Homo sapiens: one gene and its partners. The protein of the gene in region 6 purifies or fractionates together with the protein of the main gene of each other region. This does not show direct contact. Each region holds a gene or a part of one and is shown on either strand. Other genes may lie near its edges. The genes, in order: ZBTB4, RBM34, TNRC18, KIF1C, ZFP91, PRDM5 and RBM28.

What was found.
Region 1: the proteins of PRDM5 (region 6) and ZBTB4 purify together in Homo sapiens (affinity purification with mass spectrometry; 2 studies listed by BioGRID and IntAct, with this or other methods). This does not show direct contact.
Region 2: the proteins of PRDM5 (region 6) and RBM34 purify together in Homo sapiens (affinity purification with mass spectrometry; 2 studies listed by BioGRID and IntAct, with this or other methods). This does not show direct contact.
Region 3: the proteins of PRDM5 (region 6) and TNRC18 purify together in Homo sapiens (affinity purification with mass spectrometry; 2 studies listed by BioGRID and IntAct, with this or other methods). This does not show direct contact.
Region 4: the proteins of PRDM5 (region 6) and KIF1C purify together in Homo sapiens (affinity purification with mass spectrometry; one large-scale study listed by BioGRID and IntAct). This does not show direct contact.
Region 5: the proteins of PRDM5 (region 6) and ZFP91 purify together in Homo sapiens (affinity purification with mass spectrometry; 2 studies listed by BioGRID and IntAct, with this or other methods). This does not show direct contact.
Region 7: the proteins of PRDM5 (region 6) and RBM28 purify together in Homo sapiens (affinity purification with mass spectrometry; 2 studies listed by BioGRID and IntAct, with this or other methods). This does not show direct contact.

Annotation. Positions count from the first base shown.
Region 1 is NC_000017.11:7,469,211-7,473,718, reverse strand, and holds part of ZBTB4 (zinc finger and BTB domain-containing protein 4), read left to right. Parts: intron 1-4,508. UniProt on the Homo sapiens protein: Transcriptional repressor with bimodal DNA-binding specificity. Represses transcription in a methyl-CpG-dependent manner.
Region 2 is NC_000001.11:235,133,424-235,137,715, forward strand, and holds part of RBM34 (RNA-binding protein 34), read right to left. Parts: intron 2,651-4,292; coding exon 2,611-2,650; intron 2,348-2,610; coding exon 2,229-2,347; intron 1-2,228.
Region 3 is NC_000007.14:5,308,214-5,312,721, reverse strand, and holds part of TNRC18 (trinucleotide repeat-containing gene 18 protein), read left to right. Parts: coding exon 1-219; intron 220-3,353; coding exon 3,354-3,590; intron 3,591-3,772; coding exon 3,773-3,847; intron 3,848-4,409; coding exon 4,410-4,508.
Region 4 is NC_000017.11:4,996,541-5,000,749, forward strand, and holds the start of KIF1C (kinesin-like protein KIF1C), read left to right. Parts: upstream 1-1,409; 5' UTR 1,410-1,616; intron 1,617-2,472; exon of another isoform or gene 2,473-2,506; intron 2,507-3,309; 5' UTR 3,310-3,430; intron 3,431-3,679; 5' UTR 3,680-3,706; coding exon 3,707-3,812; intron 3,813-4,209. UniProt on the Homo sapiens protein: Motor required for the retrograde transport of Golgi vesicles to the endoplasmic reticulum. Has a microtubule plus end-directed motility.
Region 5 is NC_000011.10:58,619,523-58,622,581, forward strand, and holds the end of ZFP91 (E3 ubiquitin-protein ligase ZFP91), read left to right. Parts: 3' UTR 1-2,028; downstream 2,029-3,059. UniProt on the Homo sapiens protein: Atypical E3 ubiquitin-protein ligase that mediates 'Lys-63'-linked ubiquitination of MAP3K14/NIK, leading to stabilize and activate MAP3K14/NIK. It thereby acts as an activator of the non-canonical NF-kappa-B2/NFKB2 pathway.
Region 6 is NC_000004.12:120,817,745-120,822,252, reverse strand, and holds part of PRDM5 (PR domain zinc finger protein 5), read left to right. Parts: intron 1-907; coding exon 908-1,082; intron 1,083-3,725; coding exon 3,726-3,900; intron 3,901-4,508. UniProt on the Homo sapiens protein: Sequence-specific DNA-binding transcription factor. Represses transcription at least in part by recruitment of the histone methyltransferase EHMT2/G9A and histone deacetylases such as HDAC1.
Region 7 is NC_000007.14:128,298,358-128,302,865, reverse strand, and holds part of RBM28 (RNA-binding protein 28), read left to right. Parts: 3' UTR 1-4,508. UniProt on the Homo sapiens protein: Nucleolar component of the spliceosomal ribonucleoprotein complexes.

The DNA of each region.
Region 1 (4,508 bases), on a different chromosome or scaffold from region 6:
AAATTATCTGGGCATGGTGGCAGGTACCTGTAGTCCCAGCTACTCAGAAGGCTGACAGGTGAGAGGATCATTTGAGCCCAGGAGGTTAAGGCTGCAGTGAGCCTCAATCTCACCATTGTACTGCAGCCTGGGCAACAGAGCAAGATCCTGTCTCAAAAAAAGATAAATAATTGACCAGGCTCTGTAATCCCAGCACTTTGGGAGGCTGAGGCGGGCAGATCACCTGAGGTCAGGAGTTTAAGACCAGCCAGGCCGACATGGTGAAACCCCATCTCTACTAAAAATACAAAAATTATCCGGGCCTGGCCAGGCGCGGTGGCTCATGCCTGTAATCCCTGCACTTTGGGATGCCGAAGTGGGCAGATCACAAGGTCAGGAGATGGAGACCATCCTGGCTAACATGGTGAAACCCCGTCTCTACTAAAAATACAAAAAAAAATTAGCCGGGAGTGGTGGTGGGTGCCTGTAGTCCCAGCTACTCCGGAGGCTGAGGCAGGAGAATGGCGTGAACCCGGGAGGCGGAGCTTGCAGTGAGCCAAGATCGCACCACTGCACTCCAGCCTGGGCGACAGAGCGAGACTCAGTCTCAAAAAAAAAAAAAAAAAAAATGGTGGCGCGCGCCTATAGTCCCAGTGACTCGTGAGGTTGAGGCAGGAGAATCTCTTGAACCCGGGAGGCGGAGGTTGCAGTGAGCCAAGATTGTGCCACTGCACTCCAGCCTGGGCGACAGAGCTAGACTCTGTCCCCCGCCGCAAAAAAAAAAGAGAAGCAGTTGGGCCAGTTTCAGTGGCTCATGCATGTCATCCCAGCACTTTGGGAGGCCGAGGCAGAAGGATCACTTGAGCCCAGGAGTTCGAGACCAGCCTGGCCAACATAGAGAGATCCAATCTCTACTAAAAATAAAAAATAAATTAACTGGGCATTGTGGTGTGCACCTGTGGTGCCAGCTACTAGGGACGCTGAGGTGGGAGGTCATGAGAGCCTGGGAGGTTGAGGCTGCAATGAACCATGATTGTGCCACTGCACTCCAACCTGGGCAACGGAGTGAGACCTCATCTCAAAAAAAAAAAAAAAAAAAAAAAAAGAATGGCCAGGTGCAGTGGCTCACTCCTATAATCCTGGCACTTGGAGAGGCAGAGGCGGGCAGATCACTTAAGGTCAGGAGTTCAAAACCAGCCTTGCCAGCATGGTGAAACCCCACCTCTACTAAAAATACAAAAAAATTAGCCAGGCTGGGCGCGGTGGCTCATGCCTGTAATCCCAGCCCTTTGGGAGGCCAAGGCAGGTGGATCACGAGGTTGGGATTTCAAGAACAGCCTGGCCAAGATGGTGAAACCTCGTCTCTACTAAAAATACAAAAATTAGCCGGACGTGGTGGCAGGCGCCTGTAATCCCAGCTACTCGGGAGGCAGAGGCAGGAGAATCGCTTGAACCCAGGAGGCGGAGGTTGCAGTGAGCCCAGATCGCACCACTGCACTCCAGCCTGGGCGACAGAGCTGGACTGTGTCTCAAAAAAAAAAAAGAAAAAGTGTTACTAAGTGCCAAGGAGCAAAATAAAGTAGGGTCGGGAGATAGGAAGTTTTAGAAGGTGGGGAGTGGCCAGGGAAGGCCTCAGGGGAAGGTGGCTTCTAAGTCAAGGCTTAAAGGAAGTTGGGGTTCACTGCATGAGGCTATCTGGAGGAAAGAACATTCCAGCCAGAGGGAACCGCAAGATGTAGGGCGTCTCTGGTGTCCATGCTCAGATCCCCACCTCAGTGGCACATCTGAGGTCACACAGGCACTGAAGAGTAGAGAAATGGTAAGAACAAACAAATAAAAAACTCTAAAACCACAGAGCCACCAAACCTACCAGGAAGCCCAATTTGTGCCTTTTTTTCTTCACTACTTCTCCCCACCATTTTCCAGGACTGAGTTCTACAAACTAAATATTGCCAGTTGTTAGCTCATTTAATCTTTACAACAACCCCACAAGGTAGGAACTATTAATTGTCCCCACCGTATGGACAAAGAAACAGATACAGAGAGGTTAAGTAACCTGCCTGGGGTCACATAGCTAGTCTTTTCCACTTCCTATAAGGCCTTGCAGGGCAGTAGCCAGGATAGGGCAGTTTAACTCAAGCTGCGTCCAAACGCTGGGTTGGCTAGCAACAAAACCAGAGGCAAATAACCCCATCACTACCTACCTTCTACCTGAAAGGGAGGAGTTTAGAGTATTTGATTTCTCTAAGCCTGTTGTCTCACTGGCCATTTTGAGTGTTGAAATGAGATGATACAGATAAAATGCTTAGCATTATACTTTGCACATCATAAGTATTTCAAGCCTGGGCAACGTGGCAAGACCCCATCTCTACAAAAGTAAATAAATAAATTAGCCAGGCATTGTGACATAAGCCTATGGTCCCAGATACTCCGGAGGCTGAGGCAGGAGGATCATTTGATTCCAGGAGGTCCAGGCTGCAGTGAGCAATGTTCACACCACTGCACTCCAGCTTGGGCAACAGAATGAGACCCTGTCTCAAAAAAAAAAAATTTTTTTCATAAATGGCAGCTACAGAGACCATGATGACAATGATTGTGTGTGATCTTAAGGGCCAGTCCAGCATTGGGTGTCTCTAGTTCTAAGAAGCCCTGACAGGTCTCGTCCAAGTACTGTGGTAGTCAGCACACGGTCACACATGCATAGCCCACCACATATGGTTGTGCAGGTTGGCAGGCCCAGCCAGTGGGGTGAATGGGGACTGGAGGCAAAGCTTGACTTTGCCCACCTACACAGGGCTGCTACCTCCTGGAGGAAAGAACCTTGCTTCTAATTTTCAGAAAGGCACCCAGGTAGGATATTTGTGCCCTAGTGGGTGCCATAAACACGTCCTTCGTTAATATATGGTGAAGTCATCAGGAACACAGGCTTTGGAGCCAAACTTCCTGGGATCAGATCCCAGCCCTGCTACTAGCTGGTCATACGTCCTTGGGCCAGCTACCTAGCATTGATAAGCCATAATCTGACATTTTATTTATTTATTTTGAGACGAAGTTTCATTCTTGTTGCCCAAGCTGGAGTGCAATGGTGCAATCTCGGCTCACTGCAACCTTTGCCTCCTGGGTTCAAGTGATTCTCCTGCCTCAGCCTCCTGAGTAGCTGGGATTATAGGTGCCCACCTCCATGCCCTGCTAATTTTTTATATTTTAAGTAGAGACGGTGTTTCACCATGTTGGCCAGGCTGGTCTCGAGCTCCTGAACTTCAGGTGATCCATCCACCTCGGCCTCCCAAAGTGCTGGGATTACAGGCATGAGCCACCATGCCCAGCCTATTTTATTTTTTTGAGGCAGGGTCTTGTTCTGTCACTCAGGCTGGAGTACAGTGGCATAATCATAACTCACTGCAGCCTTGAACTCCTGGGCTTAAGGGATGCTCCCACCTCAGCCTCCTGAGTAGCTGGAACTATAGGTGCACACCACCACACCTGGCTAATTTTTGTATTTTTTGTAGAGACCAGGTTTCTCCATCTTGCCCAGGCTGGTCTCGAACTCCTGAGCTCAAGGGATCCACCTGCCTCAGCCTTCCAAAGTGCTGGGATTACAAGTGTGAGCCACTGCACCCAGCCCATGGTCTGTCATTTTATTTATTTATTTATTTTTTGAGACAGAGTCTCGTTCTGTCACCAGGCTGGAGTGCAGTGACGCAATCTCGGCTCACTGCAACCTCCGCCTCCCGGATTCAAGTGATTCTCCTGCCCCAGCCTACCGAGTAGCTGGGACTACAGGTGCCTGCCACCACGTCCGGCTAATTTTTGTATTTTCAGTAGAGAGAGGGTTTCACCATGTTTTTCAGGATGGTCTCAATCTCTTGACCTCGCGATCCACCCGCCTCTGCCTCCCAAACTGCTAGGATTACAGGTGTGAGCCACCGTGCCCGGCCTATTTTTTATTTATTTTTATTTTTATTTTTTGAGACAGAGTCTCACTCTGTCACCCAGCCTGGATTGATCTCCATCCAGCGCGATCTCGGCTCACTGCAGCCTCTACTTCCTGGGTTCCAGCAATTCTCCTACCTCAGCCTCCCAAGTATCTGGGATTACAGACACCCACCACCATGCCTGGCTAATTTTTTTTTTATTATTATTTTTAGTAGAGATCGCCACATTGGCCAGGCTGGTCTAGAACTCCTGACCTCAGATGATCCGCCCGCCTTGGCCTCCCAAAGTGCTGGGATTACGGGCATGAGCCACCGTGCCCGGCCTTAAAGAGGGAAAGTGGCCAGGCATGGAGGCTCACGCCCATAATCCCAGCACTTTGGGAGGCCTAGGTAGGCAGGTCACAAGGTCAGGAGATCAAGATTACCCTGGCTAACACGGTGAAACCCTGTCTCTACTAAAAATACAAAAAATTAGCCAGGCATGGCGGCGGACGCCTGTAATCCCAGCTACTCAAGAAGCTGAGGCTGGAGAATCGCTTGAACCTAGGAGGCGGGGGTTGCAGTGAGCTGAGATTGCACCACTGCATTCCAGTC
Region 2 (4,292 bases), on a different chromosome or scaffold from region 6:
TGACAGTATAAACTCTGTTATATCACTCAATGGAACATGCTTACATAACAGAAAACAACATAAAATAAGATGTAAATATAATTTAAGTTCACAGAGACAAGTTCAACTATAAAAATGGCAGCACAAGGAAAAACTGAAAGGAAATGTAGTAATGGGTTGTTACTGAGAGAAGAAAAATTTATGACATCACATAGTATGTACAGTCAGCTCCCCAAATCCGTGAGTTCAGTATCAGAGGATTCAATCAACTGCAGATAGAAAATACTTGAAAACAACAAATAATATGACAATAAAAAAATTTATTATATATAACAATATACATTCATGCAAATGTGCCATTTTATATAAGGGACTTCAGCATCTGCAGATATATATATACTGTTTGCTATGTGAGAGGGATCCTGGAACCAATACACCGTGGATATCAAGGGATGACAATAGATTATTTTTTTGTTTTGAGATAGGGTCTCACTCTGTCAGTTCGGCTGGAGTGCAGTGGTGCAATCATGGCTCACTACAGCCTTGACCTCCCGTACTTAAGCAATCCTCCAGCCTCAGCCTCCTGATAGGACCACAGGCGCTGGCCACCATGACCAGCTAGATTTTTATTTTTTAATTTTTCTTTCTTATTTTAAAACAGGGTCTCACTCTGCCATCCAGGTTGGGTGGCTCACTGCAGCCTCGACCTCCCAAGGTTCAGGTGATCCTCCTACCTCAGCTCCTCAAGTAAATGGTACTACAGGCATGCACCACCACGCCCAGCTGATTTTTGTATTTTTTTGTAGAGGCGGGATTTCGCCATGTTGCCCAGGCTAGTCTTGAACTCCTGGGCTCAAGTGATCCACCTGCCTTGGCCTCCTAAAGTGGTGGGATTACAGGCGTGAGCCACCGCACCCAGCCTTACTTGTATATTTTTTTGTAGAGTCGGTGTCTACCTATGTTGCCCAAGCTGGACTTGAAGTCCTCACGTTAATCAATCCTCTCGCCTCAGCCCTCCAAAGTGCTGGGATTACAGTCACGCGTCAACATGCCCGGCCTGTATATTCTTTTACTCCTTAATATTGTCAGGCATGAAACACTGGTTAAAAATTAGCGAACTAAATATAACTAATTTTGTACAAAGAATAAAACTTTCTTATACCTTAATGTCAATTATTTACTCTATCATACAGAAGGTAGAGAAGATTCAGTGATTTAGTACTTCTAATATCCAGGATCAAAAACATTTAATTAGTATGAAGAAAGAACTGGGACATCTTTTGGATAGGTGCAGTTGTAGCAATATATTATGGCAGGTTATAAATTCAGTTCTCGTTTTCGGGTTTTTTTTTTTTTTTTGAGACAGAGTTTTGCTCTTGTTGCCCAGGCTGGAGTGCAATGGAGCAATCTCGGCTCACCGCAACCTCTGCCTCCCGGGTTCAAGCGATTGTCCTGCCTCAGCCTCCCAAGTAGCTGGGATTACAGGCATGTGCCACCATGCCCAGCTAATTTTGTATTTTTAGTAGAGATGGGGTTTCTCCATGTTGGTCAGGCTGGTCTCGAATTCCCGACTTCAGGTGATCCACCCGCCTCGGCCTCCCAAAGTGCTGGGATTACAGGCATAAGCCACCACATCTGGCCGGTTTGTTTTTTTTTTTTTGAAACGGAGTCTTGCTCTGTCACCCAGGCTGGAGTGCAGTGGTGTGATCTCGGCTCAATGAAACCTCTGCCTCCCAGGTTCAAGTGATTCTCCTTCCTCGGCCTCCCAAGTAGCTGGGATTACAGGTATGAGCCACCACATCTGGCTAATTTTTAAATTTTTTGTATTTTTTTTTTTCCCCCTTGAGATGGAGTCTTGCTCTGTGGCCCAGGCTGGAGTGCAGTGGCACGATCTCGGCTCACTGCAACCTCCACCTCCCGGGTTCAAGCGATTCTCCTGCCTCAGCCTCCTGAGTAGCTGGGATTATAGGCACCTGCCACCACACCTGGATAATTTTTGGACTTTTAGTAGAGACGAGGTTTTACCATGTGGGCCAGGCTGGTCTCAAACTCCTGAGCTCAAGAGATTCACCCGTCTCGGCCTCCCAAAGTGCTGGGATTACAGGCATGAGTCACTGCACCTAGCCCAGTTTTCTTAAGATGGAATTTGAGAATGGAAGTGAAAGTTATGTCTCAATGATGACATGCAACAGTGTCAATGCCTCCCAGGGCACTTCGAAGGACAGTGACAATGCATTAGTCTCCCATACCTCAAAGAGCACATAGCCAAACCCTTTGCCGATGCCTGTCATTTTGTCTCTCACAATCCTCACGGCCATGATACTTCCACAGTCCAGAAAGTGCTTCTCAATGGCAGATTCTTCAACTTCTGAAAACAAATTCAATCAAAATGGAAGTAAAGAGTTGGGAGCCCCTCAGAAACATGGAGTTGTTTAATAATACAGCTAGTTAAGCATGGTCCCATGAAAATAAGCCATTATATTGCACACTTTTTAGTACATGTGCTGCCACGGCAAACACATTGCATGCTTTAAAATTAGTCTTAAATCAAAACATTAAGTTACTACTCAGTTCTTATTTCCTTGTTATTTATTTAGTAATATTAACTGTACTTTGTTTAAACAAACTTACTATAAGGGAGATTCCCCACAAAAACCGATCTCTTGTCTCTCTGAAACAAAAAGACAGTTAATAAAAATCACTCACTAGACCAGAAAATGGAAGTCATCGAAAATCCTCCCTATCCCTCCTTCCCCCCATATCTGACAGGTCACCCATCTTCTAATTTAACCACACATCATGTTCTTTGATTCTGTTTCTTCTGTCTTCCCTGCTGGACTGTGTGTGGGTACCAGAGGAGGGGAGTGACCTTTTGTTCACAGCTGGCACTGACACACGGTAGGGATCAGGAACGGACTGCTATATTGGGAGCATGCCAACTTTTTCTGTAAAGGGCCAGATAGCAAATATTATAGGCTTGGCAGGCCATGTGGAATCTGCTGCAACTACTCAACTCTGCCATTATACCTTGAGAACAGCCCTTGGATAATACACAAATGAATGGATGTCGCTGTGTGTCAAAAGAAAACTTCATTAACAAAAAAAAAGCAGCACGTAGATTTGGCTCTCTGCCATAGTTTGTTGACCCTGTACTGGGTCCCCAAGTCAAGCCAGGGCTTTCATCCAGGTCGTTGTCATTTCTCCACTAAGTTCCTTTGATATCGACAGAAATGCACTCTATGTTTCTGTGGGTGAACTGTTATAACTGTCCTTCATTCATTTCTAGGCACCTTTGTCAAGTCCAAATCTGGTCATGTCACTCTTAGTTTAAATTTTTAGAATAGCTCCTGAACAAAATCCAGACTCCTCTGTGTGAAGCACGGTAGACAAGGTCTTCATGATTTGGCCTCTGCCTATTTGTCCAACAGCAACTCTTACATACCTCACCCACCTAATAATTGTACCAAGCTCTTGCCATCTCCTGAGTGAATTAGTTTCTGTCCTCACCATTTATACTGTTTTTCCTCCCAGACATGGCCCTCAGCCTTTACAACACTTTTGGTCTACATAAGCCTTCTCTTCTTTCTTTTTTCCCCCCGCTTCTCCACAGGGTAAGGTCTATCTCCTCATCTTTCAAGACTATTATGAAATTTATTCCCCTGGAAACTTGCCTTGTCCCTTCTTCCTGGCATATCCCCAAGTCAAGTGTCCCAATGCTGAGCTGACAAATCATCCTGTGCATTGATGATAGTACTTATACAACAGTGACATGACCTGTCACTCCAACCCTAACATATACTGTCAGCTCCTAGGAAGTTGAGACTATGTCTTAGAACTGCATCTCTGACAGAGTGTGTACTAAAAACTGTCTAATGAATAATTGAACTTTCTAGACCTCGGTCTATAATGTGTTAGACCAGATGATGTCTAATGTACCTTCTGACCTAATTATGCTTATTTGAAGAGGACTATGTTTTTGTTTCTTTTTAAGAAACAGGGTCGCCCTCTGTTGCCCAGGCTAGAATGCAGTGGCACGACTACAGCTCACTGCAGCCTCAAACTCCTGGGCTCAGGTGGTGCTCCCACCTCAGCCTTCTGAGTAGCTGGGACTGTCGGCATGCATCACACACTTGACTAATTTTTTTTTTTTTTTTTGTAAAGGCAGGGTCTTGCTACATTGCTCAGGCTGCTCTTAACTCCTGGGCTCAAGTGATCCTCCCGCCTTGGCCTCCCAAAATGTTAGGATTACAGGCATGAGCCATTGTGCCCAGCCAGGACTACGTTTTTGAAGGGAATGTTGACCTCGGTCCTTG
Region 3 (4,508 bases), on a different chromosome or scaffold from region 6:
CCCCAGCCCCAGGCGCCTCCTCCGCAGCCCACACAGCCTCTGCAGCCCAAGGCTCAGGCCGGGGCCAAGAGCCGACCCAAGAAGAGAGAGGGCGTCCACCTCCCCACCACCAAGGAGCTGGCCAAGCGGCAGCGCCTGCCGTCCGTGGAGAACCGGCCCAAGATCGCCGCCTTCCTGCCAGCCCGGCAGCTCTGGAAGTGGTTCGGCAAGCCCACCCAGGTGAGCAAGCTCGCGCCCGGGCACGGCCGAGGGGCCGGGGGCCTTGTGTCTCTCTGCTGGGCCCACGGCTTCATGCTGTGTCTCCGTGTGTGGTAACCTCCCAGAACCCCAGGGTGGAGGGCTGGCGTCCCACTTTATGGATGGGTACACTGAGTCTCAGAGTGTCCTCAGGCACCTGGGTCTGTCGGACTCCGATGCCCGAGTCCTTCAGAGCAGAGTGGTCCTGCCCTCTGGTCCCGGGACGCAGAGCCACCCTCGTGGAGCCCAGATGAAGGAAACGTGCAAAGATCAGCACAGACCCACAGGCGTCGGCGCCACGTGGAAGGGGCTTTCCAGGCCTCTGGGATTTTTTCCTTTTTCTTTTTTTGAGACTGAGTCTCTCTCTGTTGCCCAGGCTGGAGTGTGGTGGTGTGATCTTGGCTTACTGCACCCTCTGCCTCCCGGGTTCAAGCAATTCTCCTGCGTCAGCCTCCCAAGTAGCTGGGATTACAGGCGCACGCCACCACGCCTGGCTAATTTTTGTATTTTCAGTAGAGATGGGGGTTTCCCCATGTGGGTCAGGATGATCTCAAACTCTCCTGGCCTCAAGTGATCTGCCTGCCTCGGACTCCCAAAGTGCTGGGATTACAGGTGTGAGCCACCACGCCTGGCTTTTTCTTTTCTTTCTTTCTTTTTTTTTTTTTAAGAGACAGGATCTTGCTCCGTCACCCAGGCTGGAGTGCAGCGGTGCCATCGTGGCTCACTGCAGCTTTGAACTTCTGGGCCCAAGCAGTTTTCCCGCCTCAGCCTCCTGAGTAGCTGGGATTACAGACATGTGCCACCATGCTACCCAGCTGATTTTTAAATATTTTTGTAGAGACAGTGTCTCACTGTGTTGCTTGGGCTGGTCTTGAACCCCTGGGCTCAAGTGATCCTCCCGCCTCAGCCTCCCAGAGTGCTGGAATTCCAGGTGCGGGGCCTGACAGCCTGTTGTGTGTGGCATTTGAGTGTTCCCAGCCACGCCCCGGGCTCCTGGCCACTAGTGTGGCAGTCCCAGCAGAAGGTACCTCCTTCCCAGGTTTGCTAGCAAAAGTCCAGATTGAAGCTCCTTGGCCTGGCCAGGATCATGTGCCCACCCCTGAGTGAATCAATATGGCCTGGAAGACAAAGTCCTGGCTGGCCAGGTCGGGGTCCCGTGTGCCCTGCCTGCAGCAGTGGGTTAGCTGTTCAGAAGGAGCCCTTCCAGCCTGCCTGTGGCTGTCTACACACACGCACACACACTTGCACACAGTGCACTCAAAAGCATGGGCACATGCACACACACACGCACATATGTGTGCACATGTACACATGAATGCACATACAGCCACACACAAAAGCAAGTATACACACATGCAGATGTACATGTGAATGCAGGCACGTACATGAACCATGTAAACATGAACATGCACACATATGCAAATACACTACACCCACACAAATGCACACTTGCACACGTACACAAACGTAGGCACATACATGCGTGCACGTGCATCCATGCACGTGCATGCACACGAGTACACGTGCACACACACAAACACGTGCACACACGAACACGTGCACACACATGAACACGTGCACAAATGCACAGATGAACATGTGCACACACAGGCACATATACATGGCAGGACCCAGTGTGAGAAGTGGTGGTTCAGACAGGCTGGCAGGGAGCCCCCAACGTGCTGTAGGTGTGGGGCAGGAGCACCTGCATGTTCCAGAAGGGGTCAGTGGTGTCTCAGGCAGCATTTCCAAAGCTGCTCTAGAATGGAGTTTCAAGTCTCTCTTGCCCAGGTGCAGTGGCTTAAGTCTGTAATCCCAGCACTTTGGGAGGCCCAGGCGGGAGGATCACTTAAGCTTGGGAGGTCAAGGCTGCAGTGAGCTGTGATTGTGCCACTACACTCCAACCTGGGCAATAGTGTGAGACCTTGTCTTGAAAAAAATAATAGTTTTAGCCGGGCGCAGTGGCTCACACCTGTAATCCCAGCACTCTGGGAGGCCCAGGCAGGAGGATCACTTGAGGTCAGGAGTTCGAGACCACCCTGCCAACATGGTGAAACCCCGTCTCTACTAAAAATACACACACAAAAATTAGCCAGGCGTGGTGGTGCACGCCTGTAATCCCATCTACTTGGGAGGCTGAGGCAGGAGAACTGCTTGAACCTGGGAGGCAGAGGCTACAGTGAGCCAAGATCGTGCCACTGCACTCCAGCCTGGGCGATAGAGTGAGACTTCATCTCAAAAAGAATAATAATAATAATAACTATTTTTTAAAAGATAAAAAAGGCCAGGTGTGGTAGCTCACGCCTGTAATCCCAGCTCTTTGGGTGGCTTATGTGGGAGGATCACTTGAGGCCAAAAGTTCAAGACCATCTTGGGCAACATAGTGAGACCCCCATCTCTACAAAAATAAAAATATTAGCCGTGGATTCCTGTAATCCCATCAACTCAGGCGGCCGAGGGAGGAGGATGGCTTGAGCCCAGGAGATCGAGGCTGCAGTGAGCTATGATATTACCACTGCAGTCCTGCCTGGGTGACAGAGCAAGACCCTTTCTCTGAAAAAAGTAATTTTCAAAAGAAAAATAAGGCCAGGTGCAGTGGCTGACACTGCGATCCTAGTGCTTTGGGAGGCAAAGGTGGGAGGGTGGTTTGAGGCCAAAAGTCTGAGACCATCCTGGGCAACATAGTGAGACCTTGTTCTCTACAAAAATAATCAAAATTAGCCGGGCGTGGTGTGCGCCTGTATTCTCAGCTCCTCAGAGGCTGAGGTGGGAGAGGATTTCTTGAGTCTAGGAGTTCGTGGCTGCAGTGAGTCATGATGGCGCCACTGCGCTCCAGCCTGGGCAACAGAGGGAGACCCTGTCTCAAAAATAAGAAGTCTTGTAGCGGCAGAATGCTTAGATCAAGGGAAGCGCCTCTTGGAGACCCAGCATGTCAAAGAGATGGAAGAGGGGCTTCCCCACTTGAAGCGAGACAAGGAGCTTCCTCATCTCCCCACAGTTGGATAGGGGTTGATTTAGAGGCCGAGGGCCCAGAGTCCCAAGCGGCAGAGCCTGCCAGGCGGCGGGCTCCTTGGGGCTGGGCCAGGGCCTGTGCCGTGACACACGTGTCCTTGCAGCGGCGTGGCATGAAGGGCAAGGCCCGCAAGCTCTTCTACAAGGCCATCGTGCGCGGCAAGGAGATGATCCGTATCGGGGACTGTGCCGTGTTCCTCTCTGCCGGCCGCCCCAACCTGCCCTACATCGGCCGCATCCAGAGCATGTGGGAGTCGTGGGGCAACAACATGGTGGTCCGCGTCAAGTGGTTCTACCACCCCGAGGAGACCAGCCCGGGCAAGCAGTTCCACCAGGGCCAGGTGAGCCTGCGGCCCGGCTGCGGCCCCCAGTCCTAGGCGGTGTAGGGCAGACCTGAGGGCGAGGCGTTCTGGGTGCTGGAGCATCAGCAGCCCTGCCCAGTGGGTCAGCCCTGTCCTGGGGCCTGGGGTCGGGTGCAGCAGCCCCCGGGCTCACCCAAGCCCCTCCTCTCTCCCCCACACAGCACTGGGACCAGAAGTCCAGCCGCAGCCTCCCGGCGGCCCTGCGGGTCTCCAGCCAGAGGAAGGACTTCATGGAGGTAGGTGGTGGTGGTGGTGGTGGTGGGCGGGTTGGGGATGGCTGCTTCCTTCCGGGCAGCTCAGACAGGGCCCGGCTCAGCATCTGCTGCTCTGTCCCCCATGGTCTCCCTCAGCCTCTGACCTCCTGTCCCTGCCACTCTCAGTGCCTGGCTCCTGTTCTCTGTCTCTCTGGTCTGTGCGTCTGTCTCTGGGTCTTCTCTGCTCTCCCAGTGTCTGTCTCTGAGTCTCTGGCCATTCTTGCCCTCTGACTCTCTCTGGGTCTCTCCCAACCTCTATCTTTCAGTCTCTGTGTCTCTCTGGGTCTCTCTCGATCTCGGTCTCTGTCTCTCTGCGTCTTTGGATCTCTTGGTCTGTCTATCCTTGTCTCTCATTTGCTCTCCATCTCTCGGTCTCTGTCTCTCTTTTGTTGGTCTGTCTCTTACTCAGCCTCTGTCTCTGACTTGGTCTCTGTCTCAGTCCCTGGGGCTCCCTCTGCTTCTGTCTCTGTCCCTGTGGCTCCCTGGGGCTCCCTCGGCCTCTGTGCCCCCCACCTGCCATCCTGATATCCCCGCGTGCCCGCAGCGCGCGCTATACCAGTCCTCGCATGTGGACGAAAATGACGTGCAGACGGTGTCGCACAAGTGCCTGGTGGTGGGCCTGGAGCAGTATGAGCAGATGCTG
Region 4 (4,209 bases), on a different chromosome or scaffold from region 6:
GTGTGGTGGCAGGCATCTGTAATCCCAGCTATTCGGGAGGCTGAGGCAGGAGAATCGCTTGAACCCAGGAGGCGGAGGTTGCCGTGAGCCGAGGTCAGCCTGGGCAACAGAGCAAGACTCCGTCTCAAAAAAAAAAAAAAAAAAAAAAAAAGAATACTAGATAAGTTAGGAGAGAGTGCACATAGGCTCCCGAAGGACAGAAGCAGCCAGCTGGAACTGTAGAGGTGAACTAGTATTTATCCAAGGGAACTAGGGATGGGCTGGGAAAGCAGGTGAGGTCAAAAGCGGAGAGAAGTATACCGTGCGGAAGCGGCAGATGGGGCTAGTTGGAGTTGGGCTGAAAGGGCCTAAAGTGGGGTCTAAAGGGGATGTCCTGACTCGGAGGGGGGTCAGCAGAACGCGAGGGAGCAGCGGGAGCTGCGGGGCATTCGGGCCTCAGATAGTTGGGTCCAAGCGGGTGACCTAGATCCAAGGGCAGGATGGAGCTGAAGGAAGCCAGGAAGGATCCTCCACAGTTGACTTCGGGGTAGCCACGGCCTGCGCCTGCGAGGGTGGATGAGGACCCGAGGGTCCGGCTGGGGCTGAGGGGCTGCCTGGAGCCCCGCTGGAGGGAAGCGCCGGGCCGGAGGGCGCGGCCTGCGCCTGAAAGGGCGACGGGGACCCTCGACAGGTGGACCGGGCGTGGCCGGACCTTCCGGGCAGCCCCGCCCGAGGGCACGACTGGGGGCTGCTTCCCTCGAGAGGGGCCCTGAGGTGGTGGGCCCAGGCTGAAGGGCAGGCTGGGGCCTGAGGGACGCCCCGGGTCTGAGAGGGCAGCTCCGGCCTTAGGCGGCACCCGGGCCTGAAGGGGTTGTTTGGGCCTCAGGCGGCGTCCAGGGCGGCCGAACTTGAGGGCCAGGCGGGGACAGAGCGCCCGAGTAGCCGCGCCACGGCCGGCCGCATTTGGCCCCAGCACCTGAAGCAGCTGCGCGGCGAATTCTAGAACTCGGCGGGGCGGGGAGGAGAGAGACGGCGATTCGAGCCGCGGGAGGAGCCGGCGGGCGGTGCTCGTCTGAGGGCGGGGCCTGAGCGGAGCCACCTTCTGGGCGGGCCTCGGCAGGAGGCTCCGCCCCCTGGACGCGCCTCCAACGGCGGCGACGGGAACTGGGCCGGGGCCTGGGTGCCCCCGCGGGTCAGCCCCCGACGTTTCCCTGTTCTTCAGGCGTCTGCAACCCTCCTGGGTTGCGGCGTCTGCTCGCCCTTCTGCGTCCGCAGCTCGGTCCCCACGTTCCCGCTCGCTGGGCCCCACAGGCCAGGAGCGTTGCCCCTTTAACAAGAGTAGCCCGGGTCGCTCCCGGCTCCTTCCCGGGACCGCGCGTACCCGCCCCTCCGCGCGCGCTCGCGCGTCCCCCGCCCCTCGCTCCCGCCCCAGCTCGCGCTGCCCGGGCGGGCGCCGGCCGCTGGCGCCGCTACTGCTGCCGCCCCCGGGGCGCGAGTCCGCCGCCCGCCGCCCGGGCACCCGGCGAGGGGCGGGGGCAGCTCCGAACCGGCCCCAGATCCTTCCCGCTTCCGCCTCACGCTTCCCGGAAAGCTTGTCCCTCTCCGCCGAGCTGCTCCGGGAGCCCCGCCGCGCCGAGGTGAGGGCTGGGGAAGGGGGAGGGAAGGGACGCCCGCGGAGGAATGTGCCGGGTTGGGGGGCGGGGAGCCGGGGTCCGGCGGCGCGATCTAGGCTCAAGAGTCGGGATCATGTGCTGTTTGTTCCGCGGAGGCGCAGAGAGGTGCCAGGCCCGGGCGGCCGCCGGCTGGCTGGACAGGAGGACGGGTCCGCATGGCCGCCCTGAGAGGCCGGGCGGGGACCTGTGTGAGAACCGCCGGGTGGGCAAGGTGCAGGTGGCCCAAGACCCCCTTTCGGGCCGGTCGGCCCCACCCCAGCCGCCCAGTATCCTCCTTGTACCCCACGGCTCCTTCACAGCTGCACCGGCCGACCCCTGTCCCTACCTCTATTCCCTTACCCCGCTGGCCCCCAGCCGTGCCACCCCATCCCTGTCCCATTAGCTGCAGCAACGGCGTCACCATCGCTTGTCCCCACCAGTGTCCTTCCCTCCCCTGGTCAGGGTCTAGGGGGTCAGGGCTGTTCTTCCTGAGCCAGCTTCTGTGATTCCAGCTACTCCCTTCCTGTCCTGGGACAGACCAGCCCCTCACCCTCCCATGCTCTGCCCAGGAAGACTGGTGAGGGGAGGCCCAGCGTGACAGGAGTTTGGGGTCCACTGGGGCCACAGGAGGGGGCTCCGCATCCCTTATCCTTCGTGGTCCTCCTCCCTGTTGTCCGTGGGCGTGGGCTGCTCAGCCTCTCCTCCCAGGGTGTGGGCACCCGATCACCCACATTCCTGGGCTCCAGCCTGGCACCTTCCCCAGGGCAGTGGACGCCATAGCACTAGCCCCAGGTTGGGGCTGGCACCAGCCAGCCGGCTTCCTTTTCTTTCTCCCTTTTAGGGAGGCCCCAGGGACCCTCTACCCTCAAACACAGGTATTTCTGGGCGCCCCAAGGGTGGAGCCCTGAGGGTTGGTCTGATGGCTACAGGATGACCCCACCCTCCCCTGCTCATTGTCCCGGATCCTGAGGAGGAAGTGCTGGGGGCTGGGCAAGGGGCTTAGAGCCCACACAGCTGGCCCTGTGGATCCCAGTCCTGGGCCCTACCTACAGTCCTTGGACTTTGCCCATCTGCACTACTGGCCTGGTGCATGGAGGTTGTGGGCCTCAGGTGGAAACTAGATTCTCCCTTGCCGACACTGTGGGGGAATTTGAGGACAGGTTTTGCATTTGCAGTTTCCTCTCTGGTCTCTCTTCTGGGCTCCCAGTTTGTGCTTTGGCGCCGGAGTTCCCCACCCTGTCTCTTTAACACCGTGTGTTTGCTGTGCTGTGTCTCTTCCTCCTTTCCTCTCCCATTCTTTCCTTCATAGCATGACCTCAGGCTTGCCTTTTGTCTTATTTCTCTAATTTTCTTGGTGTCTGTGACTCTCTGCCCCTCCTCTCTCTCTTCCCACCCCCCTCACGTCTCTGCCCATGTGCCCCTCTCTCTGAATTGCCCTCTGTCCAGCCTCTTTCTCTCTCTGTCCTCTATCTGAACGTTCAGTACATTTGCGAGTGACAAGGAATAAAAATATCACCGTCCCTGCCCTTGGATTCACATTGCATTCAGCCACTCTAGAGGGGCAGCTGTCCGTACTTTTCCTGCTATTCCCCCCGTAACCTTGGCCCTCCAACCTGGGAACCCCAGACGGGTCTCTGGAACCACAGGTGCCTTCTAACAACTCTTCCCCCGCAATCAGGGTATCTCCCAGAGCCCCAGCTGGTGTGGCCAGGCCCCAGGAGTAGGATGGGGCTCCCCCTACGAGGGCCGGTGGCAGCCAGAACTGATACAGCCCCCCTGGTCTGGGGCCAGGACGCCAGGTAACTGGGGGAGACCGCCCAGGTTCCTGCAAGCTGGAATATGGCTGGGGAGAGAGGCAGAAATACCTTTGGGAGTCTCTCAAGACAGTGACATTTGGGAGGAAAGCCAAGGGAATAAGAGCTGGGTCCTTGAGAGGCTGGGTGGCTCTGGGGGAGATGTGAAGAGACTGGTTCCGGGAAGAAGCTGGGAGGCAATGTCTGGGTCCCTGCAGTGGTTCTGACCCCACCACTCCTTTCTCTGTCCTCCAGCTGAGGAGGGCAGGAGTGTCTGGAGCTATGGCTGGTGCCTCGGTGAAAGTGGCAGTGAGGGTTCGGCCCTTTAACGCCCGTGAGACCAGCCAGGATGCCAAGTGTGTGGTCAGCATGCAGGGCAACACCACCTGTGAGTGAGTCCCCGGGGCCTGGCTGGGCACAGGCAGGGAAGGCCGGGCCCACCACACAGGCCAGTCCCGCTGGGCCAAACTAAGAGGAGGGTAATGCTGGGCACAGAGCAGGTGCTAGTCGTAAGGGCGGGGGCTGGGGCAGGCTGGCCTTTCCCGTGTTCCCAGTCCCTGGGAGGGGGAATGTTGGCCTGGAGCCCTCCATTGCCCAATCCAGGGAGGCAGCTCAGTGGGGGCGGGTCCTAGGAAGCCAAAATTAGCTTTGGTGGCTGGAGGGGGTGGGGAATGTTAAAGGGGAGAGAAGAGTCAGGACAGTGGTGAGGAGTGGGATGCTTGGATTCCAGGGGCTGGTTGGGGTATGGGCAGGGACTGGGAATACCTGACCTTGACTTTCCTTCC
Region 5 (3,059 bases), on a different chromosome or scaffold from region 6:
TTATCAATTTTTTCAAAGAATTCTTTTTTCCCAAAAAGAGGAGTAACAAAATGTCATTTCTGAAAGAGGCTTACTTTATACCAACTAGTGTCAGCATTTGGGATGCCAGGGAACAGAGAGTGAGACACCTACAATCACCAGTCTCAAATGCGCTATTGTTTCTTTTCAGAGTGTTGCAGATTTGCCATTTCTCCATAATATGGGGATAGAAAATGGAATAAAGATAGAAGGGATGTAGAATATGCTTTCCTGCCAACATGGTTTGGAGTCGACTTTGGTATATTGACTAGATTTGAAAATACAAGATTGATTAGATGAATCTACAAAAAAGTTGTCCTCCTCTCAGGTCCCTTTTACACTTTTTGACTAACTAGCATCTATATTCCACACTTAGCTTTTTTGTCACACTTATCCTTTGTCTCCGTAAATTTCATTTGCAGTGGTTAGTCATCAGATATTTTAGCCACCTACACAAAAGCAAACTGCATTTTTAAAAATCTTTCTGAGATGGGAGAAAATGTATTCTCCTTTCCTATACCGCTCTCCCAACAAAAAAACAACTAGTTAGTTCTACTAATTAGAAACTTGCTGTACTTTTTCTTTTCTTTTAGGGGTCAAGGACCCTCTTTATAGCTACCATTTGCCTACAATAAATTATTGCAGCAGTTTGCAATACTAAAATATTTTTTATAGACTTTATATTTTTCCTTTTGATAAAGGGATGCTGCATAGTAGAGTTGGTGTAATTAAACTATCTCAGCCGTTTCCCTGCTTTCCCTTCTGCTCCATATGCCTCATTGTCCTTCCAGGGAGCTCTTTTAATCTTAAAGTTCTACATTTCATGCTCTTAGTCAAATTCTGTTACCTTTTTAATAACTCTTCCCACTGCATATTTCCATCTTGAATTGGTGGTTCTAAATTCTGAAACTGTAGTTGAGATACAGCTATTTAATATTTCTGGGAGATGTGCATCCCTCTTCTTTGTGGTTGCCCAAGGTTGTTTTGCGTAACTGAGACTCCTTGATATGCTTCAGAGAATTTAGGCAAACACTGGCCATGGCCGTGGGAGTACTGGGAGTAAAATAAAAATATCGAGGTATAGACTAGCATCCACATAGAGCACTTGAACCTCCTTTGTACCTGTTTGGGGAAAAAGTATAATGAGTGTACTACCAATCTAACTAAGATTATTATAGTCTGGTTGTTTGAAATACCATTTTTTTCTCCTTTTGTGTTTTTCCCACTTTCCAATGTACTCAAGAAAATTGAACAAATGTAATGGATCAATTTAAAATATTTTATTTCTTAAAAGCCTTTTTTGCCTGTTGTAATGTGCAGGACCCTTCTCCTTTCATGGGAGAGACAGGTAGTTACCTGAATATAGGTTGAAAAGGTTATGTAAAAAGAAATTATAATAAAAGGGATACTTTGCTTTTCAAATCTTTGTTTTCTCTTATTCTAGGTAAGGCATATTAAAAATAAATATGTAAAGAAGAAAAATAAAAGTTGTCTTCATGGAAGCAACTTGTCTTCCTTGGTTGTACTGAGTTACAGTTATCCTAGGGGTGAAACATGTGATGCTGCTAAGCAAACCAAATGCCCTCAGAACAGGTGTTATGTGGGGCATACTATTGTTTGCTTTTGTTGAGAATCAGGTGGTTAATTTTTGACTGTTCTTGATTTCTAATGCTGAAATGACATGATTCTGTTATTCAGCAAACTTGGAAATCTTGATGTTTTGACAACTGCCTCCTAGGAAAACTGGCCATATGTTAATTAACCTAGTAGATGGAAAATTAAGGATTATGTGAGGTTAATTTTACCCTGATAATGACAAAACCTTGATAGCATTTAATATTAATACTTCTTCTCAAAATTGAATGTTTATATCAAGTACTGATTTTTATTTTAAAAAAGAAAAAACTATAATCCTTCTGCCTTCCAAAAGCCATGCTGTGATAGCTGCCCAGGCTGCTCTGTTACATCTCCCATTTATTGTTTACTTTTATAAATTTGCTTCTAAGATGGTATGTGTTTCAGCTTATTGGCAATATCTATGATATAAATAATGAAAGCTAATTATTTCATTTAGCCCTTACCCAATAAGCATCATTTTCTAAGTTAAATGCAATAGAATGACAACCCTCCAAGTACCTTTTAACTTTTATACTGTCATTTCAAAGCCCAGCTCATTCTCTTATTTTAAGAAGCATGTGGTATGACTGGGTAGGGGAGAAAAAAGGAAAGCATGTTGTCACTTGAGTGAGACTGCTTTAGAAATGTTACCAAGTTAGCGTTGGGTGTTTCCTGTTCTTTGGAAGAGAACAGGCCTAAACAGTACCTTCCTCCTCCTATGTAGCTACCAGGAAGGCACCGTGATTGAAATTAGAGATGCTTCCTTGCTTGATTTTTAAGTATAAATTAAATTACCTTTAAAAAGTACGTAAGGTTAGGAGTGAAAAAAATCCTGTTTTTAAAGGACTTCACACACCCTTTGTTTCTTGAACAAGATGTGAACTACCTAAACAGAAAATGAAATTGGAAAGTCAGTGGGAGAGACAACTATAGAATCAGACTTCTATTTAAATTCAAGCCTCGTTACTTGATTTTGTGCATGTTATTTCTTGAAGTTTCAGTTTCTTATATGGAGAAATAACATTTACCTCAGAAATATTCTGAAGATCAAATGGAATTGCTTTAAAGTATTTAGCTTACTGACTGACCCATGGTAGATACTTAATAAATGGCAGCTGTGTCAATAACAATTTTATTGAATGAACATTTCGCCAGCCTATGAGAAAAAAGACATGGGAAGCATAAGGGAGAATGATAATAAAATGAACTAATTCTAAGTGTGTGAGATAGATTACATTAGGCAGGGGTGCCATGAGGATTGGTATGATAGTGACCTTGTTGCTAAGTGCAAAAGCAAAACAATGACATAGAAACAAGTGTGCTAAGTACTGAGTGGAGGAGAGAGATGGAGGCAGACGCTGCAGGGGAAAAAAAATCTGATTAAAAAGGGCCCTTTGATTCCACAGGCACAAAAATCCACAGCC
Region 6 (4,508 bases):
TAAAAGAGAGCAATTCTGGGTGCTTTCTCCTGGGGACAGCCCGCTTTACAGCTTCAGTTCTGGCTTCCCTGGTGATTGGCCCAAGGCCCAGCATGGCTTTTGTATCAGTTGATTCCAAGTGTGAAGTTTCTCTGGGGTTTCCTTGGAAAGAAGGTTCTTTGTAGCATTCCTCTTCTGTGTCTGTTATTGGTCGAGGTTTCCTCTGCATTAGTTATCTATTATTTCGACTATGTCTGATTTCTGTTTTCCAGGACTTTCTAAAATATCTTGATATGTTGATGGTGGACCTTGTTTTTTTTTTTTTTCTTTTTCTCGTGTCTGTCATTTCTGTGGGATTTAGAGACCAAAGAGGTGAGGTACACATGATGGCTCCATCAACACCTTGAACTTCCCAGATGTCTAGTATTTTTTCTATTTCGGGACCAGGTTTCAGTAAATTCTTTCAGGGGACGAACTTATTTGCACTTCCTCTGGTTTGTGTTAGAACTTGAAAGGCTTTTTTTTTTTTTAAGTTTTGTGTTAGTGTTAATAATAACGAAATCATTGATATCTCATTGCTCTCTGTCTGCATGTGTGAATGACACTGTTGCATGACAACTACATTTATAGGCCACCACAAAGTGTTGCTTGCATAAGGCCAGTTAGTGATGCAAAATTCACTTTAAAAATTGAACATAATTTCATTTGACATGTGTAAATGTCACTTTTTGTCATATGTATTTGTATTTTATTTGCCAGGTAACTGAATATTGTCACCTGCCTTTTTCAGCACCCAGATCAACTAGAAATAAAAAAAAGTAATAACTTTTCATGCACACATAGTACTCCATTAATGTATCTTAAAATTATTTCTTAATTACTATCAGAAACAAATGAATGGTTCAGCATTTAAAAAAATTTGTTTCAGGAAGGAGAAAACATTTTCTATTTGGCAGTTGAAGATATAGAAACAGACACGGAGCTTCTGATTGGCTACCTGGATAGTGACATGGAGGCTGAGGAGGAAGAACAGCAAATTATGACAGTCATCAAAGAAGGGGAAGTTGAAAATTCTAGAAGACAATCAACAGCGGGCAGAAAAGGTATTGCATCTTTAATTGGTGATCTGGGAGAAGAAAAGTTGTAGAAAAAAGTGTAGTTTAAACTGTGGTTGAATTATAGTTGCCTTGTAATATGGCATTCTCAAATAAAGTTAGTTTTTGTCAAAATTATTCTCGAGGGTATCCTGTGGTGGACTCATCTTTGTTACAGCAGGAAAAGTATTTTGGGAGTGGGTGATGGATGTACCCTATAGGACTGCCTAGGCCGCAGGCAGGGCTGCATTGCTAGGGCAGCTCCCGGCTCTCACTGCTCTCACTGGCGCATTGGGGTAATGAGTAGTGAGGATTTTTATAGTCTTGCCATAGCTCTGCCACTAATCAGTCTTGTAACGTTGGGCAAGTTGCTGACTTTCTGAGACTTTACTTTCTCATCTGCATATAGGAAAAGGTGAGAGTGGAGGTGAGGTACACAAGAGAGCCTGCTGGATCCGAAGGGGATTGATTCCTCTTGTTTGGGATCTTTTGGGAACCTGCAGCTTCTTGGCATCTCTTTCTGTTCTGATCACAGAAGCCTGGAGGATTGCTAGGTTGCCCTAGTGTGGTTACCAAAAACTTTCAGTGACCGTAGGTCAGACCTTCCTCAGTCAATACTGCAGCCACTTGCTTGTTAACTGCCAGGGAATAATCAATTATTATTGGCCTTGTTTCTATTATGTTGTGTTTTACTCCTAAGGGAAATTTAAGGGATATATGAATGATGCTATAGGTATTCACATTTTGTAATAGGCCTCGTCTTTATCCTTTCAGGCTGTTATAACAAAATACTTTAGACTAGATACTTGGTAAGCAGCAGAAATTTATTGCTTACGTTTCTGGAGCCTAGGAAGTCTATCAAGGTGCCAGCAGATTTGGTGTCTGGTGAGGGCCCGTTTCTAATTAGATAGCACCTTCTAGCTGTGTCCTCATGTGACAGAAGGGACAAGCAAGCTCTCTTGGGCTTCTTTTACAAGGGCATTAAGCCCATACATGAGGACACAGTGCTCATAACCTAATCATCTCCTAAAGGGCCCACCTCTTAATACAATTCCATTGCGGTTTCAGTTTCAACGTATGAATTTTGGGGATTCACGAACATTCAGACCATAGCAGGCTGATACTTACTATACAGTACTTTTCCATTTTGTGTAGCAAAGCCACTTCAGAAGTGATACTGGTTTCATTAGTCAAAGTGGTAGTATGCTTTTCCTGTACTTTTTCTGTTCTAACTGCATGTTATTGGCTGAGAAAGTGTGAACATTCTGTCACCATTGCCAGCTTATGCTTCTGTTTCTTTATTTTAGTTGAATTATTTAAGGGGAAGATAAGGACAGGCTTATATGCATTATGCTATTTGGAATATCATATTTTGGGTGATGGGAATTATTTCTGTGTTATTCTGTGTTTTCTTTGTTTTTGTATTTTATTTTTTCCCTGTTGTCCCCAGGGCAAGTTATTTTATCCATTATTTTAATTTAAAAATAAGTAATCTACTTACCTATTACTGCCCTGATTTCTGCTTTAGTTATTAAAATACCAGTTTTCATTATCTTTGTAAAAAGAATCAACAGAAACTTAAACAGAATTTTTTAAACACATGAACCAAGCACTTGCATTGTGGCTATTTTGGTTTTTTTAAAATTTTATTTTATTATTATTATACTTTAAGTTTTAGGGTACATGTGCACAATGTGCAGGTTTGTTACATATGTATACATGTGCCATGTGCCATGTGCCATGGCTATTTTTATTTTAGAATTCTTAGTTTTATTTAGAAAAGCAAAGAAACAAAATAAAAACAAACAGCAAAAGAAACAAGCCACCCAAATGTCTAACAATGAAGAGTTTGGTTAAATAAATTGTGGTACTTTAAGTTTAAAAATATGCCAACATTTGACTTGAGAAGATGTTAAATGGGAAAACATATAAAATTGTATATAAAGTATGATCCCAAATTTACCTCTTCTTAGACTGCGCATAAAATATGTATGCACTAAAGGCAAGTCAGGCTTGCCAGTAATATTATGACAGTTGTCTCTTCCTGATGGGATTATTGGTGTTTTTTATTTTCTGCATTTTCTAAGTCTAATTTTATTTTATAATCAGAAACAAATGTGTAATTTAAATAGCACGCTGAGAAATTTGGTCAGACCTGCACCAGTCTATATGGGACCGTGTAGCATAATTCACTCTACTAGCTTAATCAGCACTGTTTTTATGACCTTGGTCTTTTTTCACATGTATGTGAGATTCTCCTTGGTAATTCAATATAGTTTGCATCAGTTGGATTTTTCTCCTTGTGAAGGTAAAAATGAGCTAAAAATGACCAATTTCAGGAATAGCTTTTGTTTTCTAATTTAACATTTTGATCTGAAAAGTTAACATTATAGGATGAATTAAATAAGGAATTTGACTTTGTATTAATTTGGTGAAATACAAGTGATTTTGAAAATAATGTATTTCTCTCTAGTAACACTTGCTATTATTTTTTTGTGGCCAAATACTATTAATATTTATAGTGATAATAAGAATTTATTCATATGGTATCATTAAGCACAATTAATTAATTAATTTAAAATGAGAGCAAAACTGAGCATTTCTTGGCTCTGAATTTTTGTCTCATGAATATGTTTCCTTGTGAATGTGCAGATCGCCTTGGCTGTAAAGAGGACTATGCTTGTCCTCAATGTGAATCGAGTTTTACCAGTGAGGATATTCTTGCTGAGCATCTCCAGACATTGCACCAGAAACCCACAGAGGAGAAAGAATTTAAGTGCAAGAACTGTGGGAAGAAATTCCCAGTTAAGCAGGCTTTGCAAAGACAGTGCGTATATTAAAGAAATATCTTTAAAATTATAAGCTAACACAGTTTATTCCATTCAGCTTAACTCATAGTTTTTAACCTGTGTGTGTGTGTGTGCACGCGCGCACGCGCATGTTTTGTGTGTGAATGAGAGATTAAGCATTTTACATTGGTATTGTCATTAACTCATCTTTTCTTAGTATAGTATGTTGATTATTAAAATATTCAAATTATGGATTTTAACACATAAACACTGTTTATGGTAATTAGTTTTTGTCCATTTATTAATTTGCCATTATGTATCAAGCTTACTGGTTTAATCTGAAATTCAGATATGCCTACTTTAGTTACTCCTTTGAGGTAACAGACTTTTAGTTGTCTACGTTTTATATTCCTTCTGGAATCTGTTTAAAAAAAAGTTTAAGAAATGGGGAGTTCAAAGTATAAAGAATTCCTGGACATTTTGGGAAGCACTGTTTATTTGAGAGCAACTTTGGAGGAATAATTTAAAGATGCATAGGTCCCAGTTATAACAATATGATTAATTAGATGATCCCACACATAGCTCTGTACCCTTTTTTATTTTAACAATTTATATTAACAACATAAAATTATCTTTATTTAAATAT
Region 7 (4,508 bases), on a different chromosome or scaffold from region 6:
AGGAGTTTGAGGCTGCAGTGAGCTATGGTTGTACCACTGTACTCCAACCTGGGCAACAGCGTGATACCCTGTCTAAAAAAATAATAAAAATAAAAAAGGATTAAACCCTTTACTTGACCAGCTTCTTTTCCTGCTACCCCTGGACTAACTAATCATTACATATTTTTGTAGTTGTTTTTTCTTTCTTTCTCTCTCCTGATCTACCACAAGCCAAATGTACTCATATACATACTAATAGGTGAAAAAAGAGAGTCTGAGGAGTGAATACATTTATTTTGTGATTTCCTAGGCAGTAGCTAGGACTCCCTTAGAGGTTGCTAATAGGGAAAGGGTGCGCTGGCTCTACTCAGTTTTATAACTGCTTTTCCCCGAATTCTGCAGACATCTTCATTCCCCTGGAGGTCAGATAATGGCTATTTATTTTCCATAGCCATGAAAATCTCTGGGGAGAGCTGTGGCAATTTGACGAGAGCTATTAAAGGGACATTAGGATTGAAGTAGCTGCTCAGGCAGTCACATACCCTCGATCCTCATCTGCAGGGACAGCTGCCAGAACGAATGAGCCCAGCTCTCCTGCCCGCAGCCAGCCGCGTGTGGGTGCAACTGGCGACCAGCCACTGGAGTGAGTCCCAGGGAAGGGGACAGGTTCTTAGAATCACCATTTGTCTCTGCTCTCTCCCTCTCTGCAATAGGACGGGCACTCTAAACTCACATAATGGTTAATAACAACAGCTAACAATTACTGAGCACCTACTATGTGTCAGGCATGTGCTGAGGATGATCGCATCAAGTAAAATGCCTGTCTCTGGCCCAGAGGCCCAGAAGAAGAGAAAGAAGGGAAATCTGTAGGAGGCAAACAGTCCCTTACCCCTCTGCTTGCAGACCTTCAGTGACAGGACACTCCCTGTTTGCTCCAAGCACCTCTTGCATTTTCAGAGCTTGGGACACAGATTCAGGGACTTGCACTTCGATAGAGTGCCTCAGGACCCCTCGTCGGAGCCATGGAAAGTCAGTTTCTGGGCCCATCCTTCCTGTGGGGGTGTCTTTCCTTCTCTTGGCCACCCCCTAGGAATCCCTAGTAGAGAGCAGGCACTTAATAGCCAGTGCAGTGAGAGTGGTCTGTGATGTCTGGGCCAGGGCAAGGCCCGCCAAGTGGGCTCCCAGGTGCCTGCCACAGAGCCTCTGGGGTTTGAGGCCCTCAGTGACCCTTAGGCAATAGCTGGGTCTTAATGAGGGATCATGTCCTTTCCTGGGTAGTCGTGGGTAGAGGGGTGTGAACTGATCTGAGCTACTCTAGGAAGGCTAGAGACAAAAGCAGGAACCAAGAGAAGGGCTGAGGCTCCTTCCAAGAGACTCCAAGTCCTGAGGGCAAGAAGCGGAGAGCCTTGTGCCAGGCCAGGTGTTGCCCCTGTCAGTGCTGACGGACAGGCAAGAGAGGCTGCTGATGCTGCAGCCCTGTGAAGCTGAGACTCACCCTTTGCCCACTTTCACAGCCATCTCCCCAGGAGGCTGTGGTGACACAGGTAAAAGCCAAAGGACAGAGGATGACCCTGGACAAATCACTCAGACCCTCCAGTCCTCTTTGCTCATTTATAAAATACAGGCAAAAAGCCCCCTAGTACTAAATGAAATAGCCACTGTAAAAGAGCACGGGAGATAGGGTCTGTGATGTCTTTTGTCCCCAGTGTCCTGAGTGAATTCACAGGAAAGGGGAGAAAGACTGGTTGCCCACTTCCAGGGTGATTGGCTAATTTCCACTTCTTTCCTGCTAGGGATGGGAACACACGCCAGAATCCTGGGAAGGCTACATGTCCTCAGGTGGTGCTGGCCCCACCTCCAGCCTCTGCAGGGATACCAGGATATGAGCCAGGCTCTGCTCCCGGGGTGACCCATCCTCCTCAGTGCCCCTTCTTTCCTCACAACTGCAGGCAGAAGGAGAGTGTGTCCTGTCTCTCTGAGGAGCTGGCTGTGCCATTTAAGCAGGCCCTAGGGGTGGAGCGCTGTGAAGAGATGGCACCCAGGTCCCTGTTCCTCCTTTTCCAGAGCAAACACTGCTAAGGGATCATGACAGTCCCTGCATCTGGCCCAGACTGGGCCTTGGGAGGCTTTTGACATCAATCCATGCAACCGCACCCAACAATTGGAGTCAGCATGGGAGGTGAGACCCACTTGCCAATTTTGCTCTCAGGGAACAGCCCTCTTTACTAAAACATAGCACAGTATTGATAACAGTTGTTTCCAGGCATCGTAGAAAGCGTTTAGTGGGCATTAACGTCTTTGATCCTCACCACAAGGTCAGGGGTTGGATGATGTTAGCATGCTCATTGAAGGATCAGAAAAGTCAGGCTCAAGATAGCTCGCCCTTCATTCAGCCAGCCGGTGTTAACTGAATATTAACTGTGCACCCGTCTGTGCCAGTGTTCCCCCAGGAGCTGCAGAGGGTCCTGAGCAGAGTGAGCTCAAGCCACTTGGGAGCTCACATTCCAGCTATCAGTGCTGATTCATCTCAAATGTTTGATCCACGCTGGGTTCTAACCCTTCCCTGCTCAGAGCCCTCAGAGTCCAGGTCAGGTAGAACCCAGAACAGAGCCTCTGGCAGGAAGGAGCTTGCATGGTCCTCAGGCTTCATGTCCAGAGATCATTCCTCCACTTTGAGCTTCTTTGTGAAAACCAATCACAAAGAGAGGAGGGGTGAAATGTGCCAAAGCCTCTGCCAGGGTTGTAGCAAGGAAACCTGGGCTTCTAGGGAAAGTTGAGAAAGGGCCTATATTAGTCAGGAGGGCTACTGTAAGAGAGTACCACAGGCTGGGTGGCTTAAACAACAGAAATTTATCACCTTACGGTTCTGGAGGCTAGAAGTCTAAAATCAAAGTGTTGGCAAGGTTGGTTCCTTCATGAGGAATTTCTTGGCGTTGCCTGGCATATAGATGCATCACTGCAGTCTCTGCCTCGTTGTCACATGGCCATCTTCTCCCTGTGTCTATAGGTCTATGTCCAAATTTCCCTCTTCTTATAAAGACACCAGTCATATTGGCTTAGGCCCAGCCCAATGATTTCATCTTAATTTGATTACATCTCTGCTATGGTTTGAATGTGTCCCTTCCAAAATTCAGGTTATTGCCAATGTGATAGTATTGAGATGGGGTCCTTAAAGAAGTAATTAGGCCATGAGGGTGCCTCTCTCTGAAGGGAGGCTCATTGGATTGTATCAGTGTAACATAATTTACATAACCAGTTCTTTATGTGATGGAAATCCCATTCAACGGTTTCCAACCTTTGCTATTACAAACTGCTGTGAAGAGAAACATATGTCATTATACTAATCAGGTGCTGTTGTTGTTTTTATAATGCATTATCCTGGAGAGACTGCCCCTCCCAGGGCTAGCTACTTTGGGGAGAGAGTAAACAACTTGGTCGAGCGTGCCTTTCGTATGCAAACCAGTCAATCCAGAGCCCACACCCCCAGTCACCTCCTTTATCAAACTCTGACACAGCAAGCCAATATTCCCCCTGCCCTAAATCACTCCAGGGCCAGGCATGGGACAACTAGGGACAATCCCTATAGCCAGGGCCTGCCAAAGTTATACAGATTAGCCAATCCTAAGCCTGCTTCCCTGCCTTGCCTTGCCTTTCTGCTGGAAACTACATTAAAGGCGCTGGATCGTGCTTTTCCCTCACCCCCTCTGCTTCTTGGCTGACCCAAGTTCTTCCTGTGTGGCCCTGCAAGGCGTGACACACCTCTCCTCCTGGGAACTGCATAACAAACTCTTCTTGCAGAGATAGTTTTCTCTGTGTCTGTCATCTTACCATACCTGATGAAAACAAATATGGGTACATTTTTTTTTTTTTTTGAGAGAGAGGGTCTCACTCTGTCTCCCAGGCTGGAGTGCAGTGGTGTAATCACAGGTCACTGCAGCCTCGACCTCCTGGGCTCTAGTGATCCTCCCACGTCAGCCTTGCAAATAGCTGAGACTACAGGCACACACCACCATGCCTAGCTAATTTTTGGTGTATTTGTTATAGAGACAGAGTTTCGCTATGTTGCCCAGGCTGGTCTCAAACTCCTGAGCTCAAGTGATCCACCCACCTTAGCCTCTCAAAGTGCTGGGATTATAAGTGTGAGCCACAGCATCCAGCCATGGGTACATTTTAAAGCAGGCGTTTTGTTCATGTGCAGCCCTTGTTCTCAGTTAAGGGGAAAATGAGTGATCCTTTGCTTGGCTCTGAAGGAGCAGTGTTTTATATGTAAAGAATATATTCTGTATATTTAAAGAAGAGCAATGGGGGGCATTTGAAAATAAATCCGTTCATTTTTTTCTGATTGTAAAAATAATATATGCTCAGTAAAGAGAATCTGAAAAATACAGAAGTATTGGGGGAACCCACCCCCAATATTTCAACATAGGTTCTTTCTATTTTCCATAAGTGTCGGCCGACTGAGAAATAAAGAGAAATAGTACAAAGAGAGGAATTTTAACAGCTGGGCTGCCGGGGGTGACGTCGCATAT